Regions from separate parts of the Homo sapiens genome. Here region 1 is linked to region 2. A link means that fine-mapping ties the variant in region 2 to the expression of a gene that starts in the linked region. Tissue or cell type: lung. Region 2 holds a variant in brackets; the other region holds the start of a gene. All regions are shown on one strand. Distances are between the middles of the regions.

Evidence for each region. PIP is the estimated chance that this variant, and not a neighbour inherited with it, causes the effect.
Region 1: MASP1 starts here. The variant in region 2 is fine-mapped to the expression of MASP1 in lung (TOPMed, PIP above 0.99). The same link has a PIP of 0.9 or more in skin, sun-exposed skin and thyroid.

Annotation. Positions count from the first base shown.
Region 1 is chr3:187,287,417-187,295,416 of GRCh38, forward strand. It overlaps MASP1 (MBL associated serine protease 1), which reads right to left and starts at 4,321. Exons shown (of 11, transcript NM_139125.4): 1 at 4,212-4,321. The coding sequence starts at 4,216. It overlaps LOC101929130 (a long non-coding RNA gene), which reads left to right and starts at 3,856. Exons shown (of 2, transcript NR_135551.1): 1 at 3,856-4,120.
Region 2 is chr3:187,260,127-187,268,126 of GRCh38, forward strand. MASP1 (MBL associated serine protease 1) reads right to left here. Exons shown (of 11, transcript NM_139125.4): 3 at 2,417-2,594; 4 at 615-746. Among named protein-coding and RNA genes, the nearest start is that of MASP1, 28 kb to the right of the region's middle. The variant G/A (reference allele first, on the strand shown) is at 4,294.

The DNA of each region.
Region 1 (8,000 bases), 27 kb after region 2:
TCCACAAGCCACTGCTCCCTGCACATTTCTCTATTATTGTGGGTATCACATTGCACTACGTTAGACACACCCTTTGGAGTGAAATGTACTTGGATTTAAGTCCCAATTCTTTCACTTACTGACTGTGAAAACTTGGGCAACTAGTCTCCCTGAGCCCCAGTTTCCTCAGAAGTAAAATGGAGATTATAATATCTAATTCATAAGGCTCCTATGAGCACTAAAGGTGATGTATATAAAGGTCCCAGTACAGAGTCTGATATATAACAGATTATAAATGAATGAATCCATGAAAGTGGGGCCTGAGTCTTAGATAGCCTAAAAAGTCAATGCTGGGAAACCATACCAGCATCTTCAGATTAACAATGATATATTTGCTAATCAGGACGTTGTTTCTCTCCAATACCCAGTCTGCCCATGTATTCAGATGCATATATCTGTGTAATGCATACATTTGAGTTTTTGGGTATGTAAACAGAGCAAGTTAACTACATACATAGATTATGTAGCTATGTCATGTTAATATTTACATAAAGTGTAAATAGGTAAGTACAAAATGTCTGAAAGGATATACACCAAGGTATTGACAGTAGTTATCTCTGAAATGGGAATATAAGTATTTCCATTTTTGTGCATATAAAATGTTTACATTTGTCAAGAAGGACCATGTACTATTTTTTCAATAAAAAGAAAATACATTTATTTAATTTTTTTCAAGGTCCCTACAATAGCAATATGTGAGATTCTATTAAGAAAACAAAATGTCTTAATCCCATAGCCAATGTCAATATTTTCTTAAACCAATCTGTGGAAGGAGGGCCTCAGAGGCAGAAGGAAGGGAAGGCATATGTCCAAGTTAACCTGTGAATTAGTTGGAAAGCTGAGTCAAAAAACCAGGTGGCAGGGCCCAGGCATCCCATTTTCAAGTGAGGAAATGAACCAGTGTTAACAGGGCTGGGAGTTCAGGTTCAGCCCTGCTGAGGAGGGGAGGGCACTGGCCCTGGGTCAAAAGAGCTAGATTCAGCTCCAGCTTTGACTTTATTTATCCTTTCCATTTTAGGAGGTCATGGGAGGTCTTGTTTCCTCATCCATTAAGTAGTAATAATAACGACTTCCCACAGCACTGCTATCAGCGTAAAGGAGGATGGGGAAGTATTTTGTTAACTGTCCAGCCCTAGCCAAACATTAGTTATAATTATTCCATCCTGCCAGTTCCCAAAAAGCAAGAGTCAGGAATGAGCTTTGGCTCCTAAACCGGACTTCCCTATAATAGCGACACCCAAATTATGCAAGGCCGAAAGGTCAACTTCCTCCATGACTGCTTTTTCCAGACCACATCGAGGAGACACTGAGCCTCCTGAGGCCGGTTCTGTCAAGGACTGGCAGCAGACAGCCCTGTGTAGCCCAGAAGCCCGGTGCCATGTGTGGTAGGCAACTGGTCAGCGTGGGAGGAAGGCCCAGGAAGCTTTCCCTTCTACTTTGTTTGCATCTCAAAACGGTTTCAAACATATGAAACAAATATCTCCCTTCATGTAATGGGCTTGAGCATATGCTTGCCTGCTTGCGTTAGGGGCTGTAAATTGAAGAATATAAGTGGCAGCTTTCATTCCTCGTCACACTCTCTGAATGTTTTTGGCTTCTTGTATACGAGGCACCGGCTGTATAGTTCCCAACACCTGCTATCTATCCTCCGGCTAATCAAAAAGTTTAGCTACATTGCAGAAATGTCAAAAGTAATATATAGAGCTGAGATTTCAGAGGCCCCCCGTAGGAACAGGCTAGCAGGACTCTGTAAAAATGCCTGCATATATCTATGATTGCGGCATGAACGGCACTTGCTATCTTTTCCATACACTGTCCGTACACGCCCCTTGTTTCAACCCACTCCACACCAAGACTCCATTTTTGAATTGAAGAGTTGGAAGGGACTGCATGGATCCTTTACAGAGCACCCTAATTTGACAGACGATGAAAAGGATACCCCAAGAGATGTCACATCATGCTCAATACCATATGGTGAATTAACTTCAACAGAAGAAGGGAATAAAAAGAGCTCACAGAAGAAGCTGGGTCCATGCCCATATCATGCCCAGGCATCTGGCCAAAGCAATTAATCCTGTGAAAAATAATTGAAAAACCCATGGCTTTACGTAAAAAATTTAAAAATATTAATGCCAAAGTCCCTCCTCAGGAGGTTCTGGTTTAATTGCTCTGGGGTGAGGCCTGAGCACTGGCATGTTTCAAGGCAGCACAGATCATTCCGACGTACAGTCAGAATTATGAGCCGTCAGTTTAGAATAATACACTTGGCTGAAAGTCTAGTGGAATATAGTAGAAAAAATCCTGAACTTGGAGCCCGAAGACCCAAATTTGAATCTGGACCTTTTCATGATCATCAGTGTGGTTTGGGCAAGTTGCTTAACTGCTTTTATACCCACTACTTATCCATAAATCCTTACTTCATCCAGAATCTGAAACCCCCATGAGACAGTGCTCTTGAAAGTGCTCTGCAAACACTGAAATACTGTATCCATGTGAGACAAGACCTGCTGGAGACTTTTCTAGCAGAGCACCTTTCTCGTAGTTGCTTGGCTATTCAAAAATTGAATTCAATTCAACAAATAGGTATTGAATGGCTGGTAGGAAATAGACATTATGCTAGGTGCTGGCCATACAAAGATGAAGACATAGATCATGTAACTTAAGGAGTGCTGAGACTTGTAAGGGGAGGTGGACATTTAAACAAGGGGATACTACAAGGACAATAAGAGATGCAGCTTCAAGGGACAGAAACAGAACAAAGGACAAAGGAGGGGATGCTCACTCTGGAATATGGTGGTCAGGAGAGAGAAAGAGATATTTGTGCCAGCTTGAACAATCAGGTCTTCTAGGTGGAAAATAAAGAAGAAGGTTGCTCCAGGTTGAGGGATGAGCATATGCAAAGATACAGAATTGTTACTCAGCCAAGTAGTTTGATATGGGCTGGGGCACTGAATGGTAGGGTGGGATTCAGACCAGATCATTGACAGATAAATGAGATTATCATTCAATGTAGATTGACATAAATCACTTTTTTTTGGAGAAAGAAAAATGATGTTTAATGGCAGGTTTAAAATTACTATGGCTTTAAGAAGAACAGAATTATTGCACTCACTTTTTAAGGACCTGGTTATCTCTCTGAACCACAGGTAATCGGAGTTCAAAGAGTTAACATAGTCTGAAGCCTCTCATTGGTCTCAGGTCCAGAAAAGTTGCTAGGTTACTTTGCAGAAGAGAAACAAATAAAAACACTTTCCCAAGTGAAAAGAAAATTAATAGTAAAAGATGTGTTTAGGGACTTACACATCTGCAGAGCATTGTGTGTGTGTGTGTGTGTGTGTGTGTGTGTAACAGCATTAACACTTAACTAATAAAAATAACTAGGGTGGTTGGGTTTTCAGACTTGCAGGATAGAACTTGTATGAAAGGTCTGGTAAGGAGTGTCAAGTATAATGAGGAATAAGAAAGGTTAAAGAGTTTAAAACCAATTAGAATTTGAAGTTCTTGATTTCAGAACTCTAAAATCCTTTTTTTTTTTTTAAGTATGATATCTCTTTAAGAGCCATTTGGTGTACTTCATAGCCTGATTCATGCCACCAGCTGCCTCTGATTTCAATGAGAAATGCAGAAAATTTATAGGGAACTGTAAAATGGGGACAGATTTTTAGTTTTCTAAATTGAGGTTTAACTGGCAAACTTGTAAAGGTTGAAGAAACCACAGAGCCAAGCTATGGGAAGCTGGTTTCTTTTCTGGTCAGAAGGAATGAACACACAAACACATATCTAACTCACAAAGTGCTGGAAGAGAGAAAGCAATGCTCTTTCCAGAGGAGGAACACGGAAAAATCAGCCTTGTGGGTGAACAGGAGGAGAGTCACATTCGCCAGCAGGCAGCACCCTGTGCAGGCAGTGGGAGAAATCTGAGCTTCAGCAGCGTCCGGAGCAGGATTTGCACGAAGTCTCCCGTTTCAAGTTTTATGTCTCCTGGAGTCCTGGGGAAGGCACCCAGCCCACCCACAGCTCCCTTCTCAGAGCCCTAAGAATTGATGAGAAAGCCCCTCACTACCACATGCAGGACACGCAGGTGAGTCTGTCAGTGACAAGGTCAGACCTTCCCTGCTATTTGACACTGGTCCCCAAAAGGGAACCGTGCCCTCTCCTCCCCTGGCACGTACCTCATTTTCCTGCCTTGGGTGCTCCCGGCTGCCCGGCCTTGGTCCTCCCAGCTTGACTTGCCTGTGAGCTCGTGCCCGGTGTGGTGTCCGTGATGCCTTATCTTTGTTCTGAGGTCCCTGTGTGTCTCTGGAATTGGCTGGCATTCTCCATTCAGGTCACGCCTTCCCCTGCCTGCAACAGATCCCCTCTCCCCCTCTCTCCCTCTGGCTTTTCCTCTCTCCTCTCTCTCTCCTTTGACTTGCTCTTGCACTCCCAGGAACCTGACAACAAAATCTGTCTTCCTACCGAAAAGATCTGCTCCTTCCCTTCCCTCCTTTATCCTGTGTGGCTGACTTCAGCCCTTGAGAGAAAATAACTGAGGGGCTCAAGCAGGTATTTGTATCACTCTGTGTGTGTGTGTGTGTGTGTGTGTGTGTGTGTAGAGAGAGAGAGAGAGAGAGAGTGAAAGGGGACAAAGTCTAATTTCTCTTTAGTCTTTTTTGCCAGATGACTATAATTTTCTGCTTTTCTTCAGGACACCCATGAAAGAAAAGCAATTAAATAGAAACAACCAACTAAGAAGGCAATTCTAGCACCTACACTAGAAGAAAAAAAAAAGGTCTAAATCCCAGAGCGTCTGTCTGCAAATAACTACAGGTTTCCTTGTGAGCAGAGCCCCAAATAACTACAGGTTTTCTCGTGATCAGAGTCACACACAACGACAGGTTTTCCTGTGAACAGAGCCACGGGCCCGGAACTGGGGAAGCACCAAGTCCTGAAGTTGGCTGGTTGTTCCTCCCCATGAGCAATACCTGTGGCACTGTTTACTTGCTCGGAGTGTGTGCGGCTCTACTCCAGCCCAGAAAGGGCCCATCGCAGCAAGAAATCTCACCTCCCCAGGGGTGTAGAAAGACCTGGGCCTGTATATATGTCTATACCCATGGCTTCCGGAGAAATCAACACTAGATCTAAGATGAGCTGAATAATAAGAAAATTACCCCCTCCACAACAACAACAACCAACACTGAATAGGGAGAGGTGTATCTGGGTGTAAAAGTTAAGTTTGACTGTGCACCTTTTCTGTGTTAGACACAGTACTAGTCATTAACATCATCTCAAGTTACTTTTGCAAACTGGTGAAAGTGCTGCTGTTATACTCATTTTACAAGTGAGGACACTAAGGCTCAGAGAGAATATGCCACTTGCCAAGATCATCCAGTTATTTATGACTCCCCACTGCCACTAGCACTAGAAGCTAACAGCTATTGAGTGCTACGTGTCAGGCACTGCTCTAAGCACTTAATATATGAATTCTTTTCAGTCATCTTTATATGTTGTATACATGGCTGGCAATATTCTCATTTTTCAGAGGAAATTGCCCAGAGAGGTTAAGTAACTTTCCCAAGTTCACACAGCTAGAAAGTAATAGAGGCAGAATTTGAAGTGTTAGCCACTGTATTACACTGCTACTCATTAACATTTTATAATGCATATGGAATTTCAAATGCACACACACAGACGGCATTCATAGAGAAACTCAATCTGAGTCATTTTGAAAAGAAGATTAGACTCAGAGTTTAGCTGTAATCTTTCCTTTCTACCCAAGACAGCTGTGTACTTTGGGCACAATACTTAAGGTATCTGATTCTGTGTCTTCATTTGGAAAATGGGAGTTACTATGAGGCTTAAATAAGACTGTGCTTGTAGAAGTGTCCAGGGGAGTACCAGAGAGAGGGCTGCCAGCCACACTCACCAAAGCGGCAGACACATGCACTGTCTACCCTCAGATAACGTTCCTTTGGCACGTTCTGGGGAACAGTGGCTTGACTCTCACTGTACTTCTTACTCCATTTTCTCTCCAGTTTCTCTAATTTTCACACTTTTGAATGCCAGCCTTGCCAAGCTTGGCATTATCAAGAGGCTGTGGTTGATAAAGCAGGTACAAGTATATGAGATGGGAGGATATGTTTGAACTCAGGCACTGTTTTAGCAAAATGTGTTCTGTCTCAGTCAGCACAGGAAAAAAAGCTTTTAACATTCCCGTTAAGAAGACTCACAGGCTCCGCACACATTAAATAACTCTCACAAAACAACATTTTAATGATTTACGTGTAAATGAATCAGAAACACATGGACGACATTTCTCTTGGAATACACAAGGGTTTTAAAACTGAAGGAGAAAGAGCTTGGCAAAATGCACACTGTGCTGGGAAGAGGGCCCCTGCCCAGTAAAGACATTCCCTCAATTCATGCTGCCACGGAGTTTGCCCTCTCCTAATTTAGGGCATATACTGGGAACTGCAGTCATTTGTTCTGGGTACAGAGGGAAGAGCTTGGGCGAGAAAGCCATCAGCTTCTCCTTGGAAAGTGTCACAGAGCAATTAGGCCTCCTGGAATAATTTTCTAGCCATGTTTCTTCAAGGCTGCCAATGTTCAATGGAAAGCATTCGAGATGTGTTCTAAGCCAAAGTTCTGCCAATATATAGCAGATCTGATATGTGCGCTTCCCTGGGAGTTAGCCAAGGCTCAGAGGAAATCTGCATAAAAACAGGAACTACGTGGCCCAGGAATGATCTGCATGTGATTCAGGACAGTTTTCTACTTGGTTACACTACATATTGTCTGATGCTTTTGATGAATCTCCCTGAAGTGTCACTAAGAGATCATGGGTCATCAGGGGTGGGAGGAATGGAAGGGACATTAGGCTGGAAACAGAACTGGGCTCAGTGACTATAGGCCAGCTTGCATGTGACCTTGGGTAAGTCACTTACTTTCTCAGGGGTGGGGGTTGAGGGGTGGAGGGGTGGGGCATCAGTGTGTTCAATTATGAAATCAGGGGGTGGGACTCAGTTGAGATCATAGATATCAACATGTGGATATGAAGACTATGAAATGATGTCGTTGGGAGGGGGTTAGGTAGTTTGCTAGACCTAAAAGATTGTCAAGGAGTCCAAAATAGCTCTAATAATCTTGACATTGGCTTTTTCTGTGCTCATAATATTACTGATACTAAGAATTTAATCACAGATATTCAGAAAAAGTAATATTTAAAAAGGTTCAACTAGTTTTTTGAGTTTGGCAAAAGCGATTAAAAAATGCATACAAGGAACTGACATCATTTAGAATCATGAAAGCGTAGAATGACTGAGGTGGGCTCAGCACCCGCGCACTATAGTCCTGTAGTCCGGGAAAGGGATCAGAGAGCTGCCTACTAAGGGTAAATGCGGCAATATTCCTACCACTGGAAGAGGTTTTGGTTTACATGTTCTACCAAAGTATTTATTTTATGCAACTTTTGAGCTAGAGCTTCTGGAATTCAATGAATGGGTTAGAAAACGTAAAGAATTTGGGCAATGACTTTTTGTTGGTAAGGGCTGAAATCCAGGCTTCCTACAGAATATTTGAGAAACTGATAAATAGCTCCAAAGATGGCAGCTTAGAATGAAAATCTGGGTTCTTCAGCACATTGACTGACAGCATGCCGAAAGTCCTGGCTTCTGAGTCTATCAACAGAATAATGGGGAAAATATTTTTAAAAAATGACAATCTTTGAGCTTCATCCCAGGAGATTCAAACCCAATGAATCTGTGGGTAAGTCTCCTGAATCTGTAATTTGAAAATCTCCCCTGGCATGATTTTGCCACTTTTGGTACAAATAACATAATGATACATTTTATAATTGATGGCACCTTTGATTTGATAAGATGTCATTTGTATATGCCAGATACTTTTATATATATTATTGCATATAGTATTCACATCTTTTTTTACAAGTAAAGACATTGAGGTTCAGAGAAACTAAGCCTGCC
Region 2 (8,000 bases):
CCCATTACCCCACTAGCCCAAGAGCTCCTCCTAGAAAGTGGCTAAACCCTTCCATTTCTCCATCCCTCCCTAAGCACGAGACTATAGCATAGTAGGTACGTTGATGATAGATGAAAACAAAGATAGATAGAAGGAATGGGAAGTTTTCTGGCTGTTTCTGTTTGCCTCTTTCCTCTCTCACTTCTTTGCTTTGGACTGAGGTCTCTCTATTGTAGAGGAACTTAGGGGCCATGGAAAAGAAGAGAAAAGGAGTTGCTGGGTAAAGCATAATTCGTGGCTCAAAGAGAAGGAACTGGGAAACCCAAGTTTTCCCCTAACTTGACCAGACCAATTGCCTACAATAGGATAGGAGACAGCAACCTGTATAGTGAAAAATGCTGCCCCAGAAAGAAAGATGGCCAAATAGTCTAGAGCTTCTCTCCTTTGGGAACCCAAGATCAGGTTTCCAGGCTGGGTGGGCATTTCTGCATCTTCATCCATGTGGTGTCTGAGGTGCATCATTGACTTCATTTTTACTTGTTCCTATTGCATATCTGTCTTTCTCTGAGCCTCATCTAATGTTATTGAGGATGTGGCCTATAAGGGCAATGCATACAATCATTGGTAGGCTCTACCTCGGCAGGTCCTGTTGTCTGTGTGGAGGATGTAGCCGAAGCGGCAGGAGCAGTAGTAGCCGCCAATGTAGTTGTGGCAGTAGTGGTCACAGGACAGCTCCTCGTCCTCCCTCTCCTTGCACTCGTCCACATCTGTAGGGCAGGTAAAGCCTCTCCATCAATACATGCATGATGATGAAGACTACAGCCAACATTTATAGAGCACTTGATATGGGCCACTCACTATGTTAGGAGATTCATGCGTTCTCTCATTTAATCCTCTCATACAGCCCAGAGGTAGCCATTATCTTCACTTTACAGACTAGGAAACTGGAACTCAGAGAGGTTAGGCAACTTACCCAAGGTCACAAAAAGCCAAGTTCAAACCCAGGTAACTTGACTTCTGGTGGGACCACTATCCTCTAACAGTTATAATAATAACTGTGTGTGGGACAACAACCTCAGGAAGAATTACACATTTGTTACTATGCATTCTGTTACTAGTCACATTCTATGGAGGATGAAATGGCGACATAGAGGCATTAACAAACTTAGAATCACACAGATAATAAGTGGCAGACCCAGGATTTAAATACAGACAAGCTGGGTACAGAGCTTGTGCTCTTAACTTCTACCTCATGCTACCTCTTTCTTTCTTTCTGCCCCTAATGTGGGTCAAGCCCTGTCCTAGGCATTTGAATGTACATTTCCCCAAAAGGGATAAACCAATGGCCAACAAGCACATGAAAAGATGTTCAACATTGCTAGTCATTAAGGGAATGCAGTTTAAACCACAATGAGGTACCACTACATACTCACCAGAGTGATTAAAATTTTTAAAAATTGACAACATCTAATGTTGGTTTAGATGTGGAGCAGCCAGAACTCTCATACATTGGTGGACAGATAAAAAATGTTACATTTGCTTTGGAAAAGGTCTGGCAATGTCTCATAAAGCTAAACGTATACCTATCCTATGACTCAGCAATTCTTCTCTTACATATTTACTCAATAGAATTGAAAACATATGTTTGCAAGAAGACTTGCACAAGAAGGTTCATAAAAACTTTGTTAGTGAGAGCTAAAAAATGGGGAGATTCCAAGTAGCCGTCAATAAGAGAATGAGTAAACATACTTTAGTATATTCATACAATGGAAAATTACTCTGCCAGGAAAAGGAGCAAATTACTGATGCATGCGACACATGAATTAACTTCAAAAACATTATGCTGAGTAAAAGAATCCTCACCCCCAAAATGTATTCTGTATGTTTTCATTTAAATGAAGTTTTAGAAGAGGCAAGAACTAATCTACAGCAGAAAAAAAATCAAAACAGTTGTTTCCTCTAAGGGAAGTGGGAGCAGAGATTGACTGGCAGGGACACAAAGGAACCCCCTGGGCTGGTGGTAAAGTTCAGTGTCTTGTTAGAGGTTTGGGTTACACACAAATACAGATTTTTCAAAATTCAACAAATGTATACATGAGATATGTATATTCCATTTTATGTCAATTTTACACAAAAAGAAAAAATGCTGTGAACAAATATGAAACTCTAGCAAAATAATATGCATGCTGAATTATTTAGGAAGAAGTATACTGATGTCTGCAATTTACGTTAAAACACTTTGTAAAAGATGAATTGCTGGATGGATAGAGGGTAGATAGATGGATAGATACGTGATAGAGCAAATGCATTAAGACATTAATGGTAAAATCTATGTGGTGCACACACAGATTTCCATCGTAAAGGAGAGGTCACAAGGCAGTTTTCATCTTCGGAGAGAGAGAGAGAGACCTGAGGATGAGTCACTTCTCCAACTTACCCACAGCCATGTAGTGGGCATCAAAGCCTGTGAAACGCTCCTCATTGGAGAAATCTGACCGGAAAGTGATGGACATGAAGGAGCCAGGGGAGAGGACCACCTCCTGGCCGGGAGTCTGCTCTGTGTCTGTGGTCTCCCTGCCACAGAAGGTTGCCAGCACCTGGTCCTCAGTTTCTACCTTTGAGGTCAAAGAGAAAGGGAACAAGATGAGCAGTTTCCCAGCTAGGCTTCTTTCCTTATCTTTAGAAAGAAAAAGGAAGGGGCCACCCAAGAGTAGGCTAGTCAGCCTGAGAAACCCAAAGAAAGGAGGTTAAGGATTCTTGAGAAAAGACGCATTACAAGTTAATTCAATGTGGACATCTGATCAGTTTCATTCGTCTTATTTAGTTCCATTAGAAGTAGCTTGATATTTGTTGTTGCTGTCAATAACCAAGCAGCTTATTTATTAAAAATAACTCAATATGAAAGTTTTAAAAAGTTAGATAACCTCGCAGACAGATTCTCTGCACAACAGGAACTTACCACATTTCCAAAGAATGGAAACTGTATACACAATATAAGTCATTCATTGAGTATCCAGTGTGTGCCTACTGCCGAGCAAAGCATGAGATGGAGGTGATGAGAGATAGACACAGTGCTGTGCACACAATAGCAGTGTTGAGATTGAGGAACACAGACACAGGCAGGTATTACACAGTGTGACAAATGCTTTCACACAAGCAGAAGCACTGCATATGCACTCAAAGCAGGCAAACAATCCACATTAGAATATAAGCTACAGGAGAGAAGGACTTTATTTTCTTTATAGATGTGTCTTCAGTGCATGGAACAGGACCTGGCACATAATAGTTATCCAATAAACATTTGTTTACAAGAACTGAAAGTACAAGCCCCATTCTGTGAACAGTGAGTAGCCAGGGAGTCTGTGGGGATTGTAGGAGGAGATGTACTTGGAAGGATACATGGAAAGAAAATTATGGTTGACCTTGAATGCCATTAATTCTGTGAGTAAGTGGAAGACACTGAAAACTTTTAAGCAGGAAAGTCATGTAATGAAAACTAATGTTTAATAGGCAGTCTTAATACAGAAACTATTTATTGGAATCACCCAAAAATAGTTTGAGTGTGTATCTCTGTGTGTACATGTTTGTGTTAAGACTTAGATGCAAAAAACATGCCTGTTTGCTAAAAGAATTCCCTTCTTTGGAAGAGCCAGAGGCCCTGTGCGAATTCAGAGATCCAAGCAGAGATCCTAAACTGGTGGCTTAAAGCTGATTTTATGTGAGACAGGAGTTTGGGAAGCTTCGTATGATAGCTAGTTGGTATATTTATTTGAGTATAAATTCTTGACGTATCTATTCGATTATCTTATACCTAATCCAATTCTTTTAAGTTGTATTTGTGTTTGCAACCTCTGGACCAAATTTTAGCCAAGATGCATGAAAAAAATCTCTTACCAAGAATGATTCCTGCTGCCTTTCAAAGTCATTAGAGAAAAGTTCTCAAAGGCGGCTATCTCTAGTAGCTTCTAATGAATTCATTGTTTTGTTCGTTAGCTTAGCATGTCAGAAATATCTTGACATTTGACACTCCTGTTTTGAAACTAATGGTTTATTTATTTAAAATAAGTGGGAGTTTCAAAGAAAAACAATTTGCCCTGGCAACAAAACGCAAGTACAATTAATCACTAACTTTGGGAATTGAAGTGTAAACAGAAGATGAGATCATGGCTTTGCTATTTATTCCTCTTCTCTGCAGATACCAGCCGAACTCACACCAGTCTTGTTACTATAGAATGTGCCTATCTGCACACAGCTGAAATGTCACTTCCTTGAACCTCCCAGCTGCTGTGTTATTTTATCTGACTCAGTTTTCCA[G/A]ATAGCCAAAGCTTTACCTAACTATAACTAAAAATTTTCTTTTTGGTGTAACACTTAAAAAAAAAAAAGTACTTTAAAGAAGTACCCACTTTCTCAAGTGAAACATGCTAACCCTTTCTTGGTGATCCAGGGACATTGTTATGAATGTCAACCATTGTGATACTATATTAAAGTGATAATCTTGGGGATATTGAGTTGTGTAATGTCGCTTGACCTGGCGTTAAACATTGCCGGACTATAAAGCCTTGAACTTCTGAAGTCTTCTTTATGTCATGTTTTATTTCCTGTCTTTTTATCAGCCTATTCACTGTACTTTTCTGTCTGCTTATTTTTAATATGTTGTGAATTAGAAACCAGTTAACTGCTTTTGCTAGAACTTAATAAAAAAAAGCTAAATAGATTTAGAATGAGGGCCTGGGAAAGGGATTCTTCTGTGAGTAACTGCATGAACTAGAGTACACCATCTTGGTGACCTCTGCTTTGGAGTAATACGATATACAGGAACCTGGCAGTTGGAGGTCCTGGGTCCTGTTCCTGACACTGCCGTATTCTGCATTTTGGGCCATCTCCTTTCTAGCTCTCAGTTATCCACTTGTAAAAACAGGGGTTTGGACTAGCTGAGCTCTAGATTCCTTTCCAATTCCAGACATAGCAGTCATCATAGTCTAACACAGTTCTAACAAATCATCATAGTCATATATTATATAAACCAACCAGAAGATGGTAAGCAGGAGTTTTAACATATGCAGGATTACTGCTTGCGGATGAACTTGAATTTGTTAATAATGAATAGTCATGCCTTGGGCATTAATAGTTCCAGCTACACAGGCTTCTTTCTGGAACTTGGTATCCCCAGTGCCTCTTGGGTTCTGCAGTGACTGGGACATGAACATTTTCAAGTGAACACACTGGTCATTTGGATTAGGGAGATACTACTGAGGGTCTGTGATAAATGACCTCCCTCCTTGTAACGTCTGGGCTGAAGGACCTTTTCATAATGGCAGATAAATCAGATAAATGGTTATCACCTGCAGAGCCACAGTATTCCAGAGAACAGGAAGCATGCCCCAGCTGAGGCCCATGGGAAAATTTGAGCCATACATCCTTTTAGAAGCAGAGAAGAGAAGGCCAGTAGCCTGGGGCCCTGGGAATTCAGCCTGCAGCTCAGAATAGAGTCCTGGAATATCAGAGCTGGGCGGGACCTTTAAGAGCTATTTCTATCTGCCTCCTTCTATAGGAAACAGAGGTCAAGAGAGGGGAAGTGACTTGCTCAAGGCTGGAGAGATAACATGAACATTTTCTGATATCAGTTTTGCTTTGGGAACTATTCTGAGATGAGAGAAAAGAACCCACCAACCCAGAGAGTACATGACTAAAGACACAGACACTTGGCCAAACAATTTTCCTGGCTCAAAGGCCTCTTGAAACCTTATCTTGGGTGCATGGACTGTCTCTTAGAGAGGATGTGGCTCAGTGACAGCTCCAGTCATAACCTAAACAGAGGGGTCACTGGTCCCGGTTAATATTTGCATCCTGTGCTGTGGAATATGGAGTTCTATAAAGATCATTTACCTCTGAGTATAGGCAGATTGAGACCTAGCTTCTATTTGGACTGTCCCCTCTCAGAGGTCATCATATCAACATGATGGAGGGACCTTATCAAGTGAAGACAAAACATTCATAATAATGGAGACCCATGTGGCTGCGAATAATAAACTCTTCATTTTTCTATTTCTTCTTGTGGGCGACTATGTCCTTAGAGACTATTGTTATTTAGGACACCAACATGTGGCTGTATGTCCTCAATTTGTTTTCTTTCAACTCAATTCACCAAATATGTGTGTACTAAGTTCTGTCTACACTTTAATGTGAAGGGTGCCAAAAATTATTTATTTGTTATACGAGCTCAATAAGCAAGTTCCCTGCCTCTAGGAATGTGACACTTGGTAGAAGAATAAGATAAGTACTCAAAGGTATATGTGTTGGGGTATTCTCAGGGTATCGTAAATGCAATCAAAGATGGGCTGCCCTGGGGGTTTAAGGAATGGAAAAGATTGAATCCAGCTGAGGGAAATCAGAAAACATTTAGGAAGAAGAGAATAATCTTTGAGCTGGAGACTGAAACGTGAATAGAATGTAGGCAGGTAGAAATCATAGATGGAGGGTAGGGGGTGGGTAGAGTATGTAGGGAGAGGAAATAGTGAAGGCCTGGGGTATTCAAATCTCAGCTGCTCCTCCCCACTACCCATTACCTGGCGTCAGAAAGGGGCTCTGTTAAGGACAGAGAGCTGGGAAGGCACATCTGATAAGGAGAAGCCAAGAGGCTTTGGTTTCTATGAGTTTTCTACCTCAGCAGAAACAGCACAAACCTGCTAGGCAAAACTATGGCAGGGCAGCTGGGATTGGCCAAATTTCTGTGGAAGGACAGCTACTCTATGGAAGAACAGCTACTCTATGGGAAGACAGCTACTCTATGGAAGAACAGCTACTCTAGGGAAGGACAGCTACTCTCGCTATGTATGGCTGCTCTCTGCATGTCCATAAATTCATTACATCAGCTAAACAAATGCATTGACAGCTACCAACTGGCTCCTCAAAGCAATGTATAGAGAAAGCAGCCCAGGGGGGATTGCTCTCCTTTTATAGATGAGGAAATTGAAGCCCAGATAATTTGAACAAATTGGGCAAGGTGACTGGTGAATCTAGTGAGTGGTGAATGAATCTCATGATAAATGAATCTAGTGAGTGGTGGATCCAGGTCCACAATTGCAGCATCCTGATTCCCTAGCCAGTGCTCCTCAAGACATTAGGCAAATAAACAAAGGCTGTCTTATAACCCAAATGCCTCATGACTTTGTTTGTCAATGTTCCCGAGCTATCTCCTGGAGCCTTTCTGAAATCTGCTCAGGGCCCTTGAGGAGCATTGCAGACTTAATTTAGGCAGACATTTAGGGAGTATGCTGGATTACCCTGTTGCCAGTTTAGTTAATCTGGGAGCTACGTTCCCCAGACTTTCTTTCCCTGTATAGTTCTAGATTAGAGTTGGCCAAAAGAGGAATTTGTGCAAGTTTGAAAGGCAATAGTCATTACTCACTGAAGGCTGTTTTGTAATCACATACAGAGAAAGAAATGTGTAGATGTGTCCAACACATCCTCACTTGCTCTCACGTTCCTCTACTCTGCACCCGGCTCTTTATAACTACTGGCTCTGATGACCAACAGTGGCCCATGCCTATCATCAGATACTTTCAGGTGAAACCACAGAGGTGGTAGCTGCTTACAGCCAACAGCTTCTCAGAGACCCTTTTCCATGAGCCTCCCCTTCATTGTTGCACTTTGGCCCCTTAGGTAGAATTGACTTATCAGATTCCCTTGCAGATGCCAATATTTCCACCCATGCCAGGGCTTTAAGAGAACTGCTTGGTGACCTTTTCTCTAATCCTTTAAATCCCCATTTCCAACTTTTACTTGCCCAGCTCCTTCTATAATTACGAGTTCTAATACCCATAAATATTCATTATCTCACATTACTCATAAAGACTTTGCTTTCCTGATTGAAGTCTGACTGAAATAGTTATTGATACCAGAAGTAGAATGCTGCAGTAACAAAAAACTAGAATATGTGGCTTCAGTTTTAGGATTGGCTAGCAAGTAAATTCTAGAAAAACAGTGAAGAGACTGCTATAGGAGTCTAAAACAGACCACTT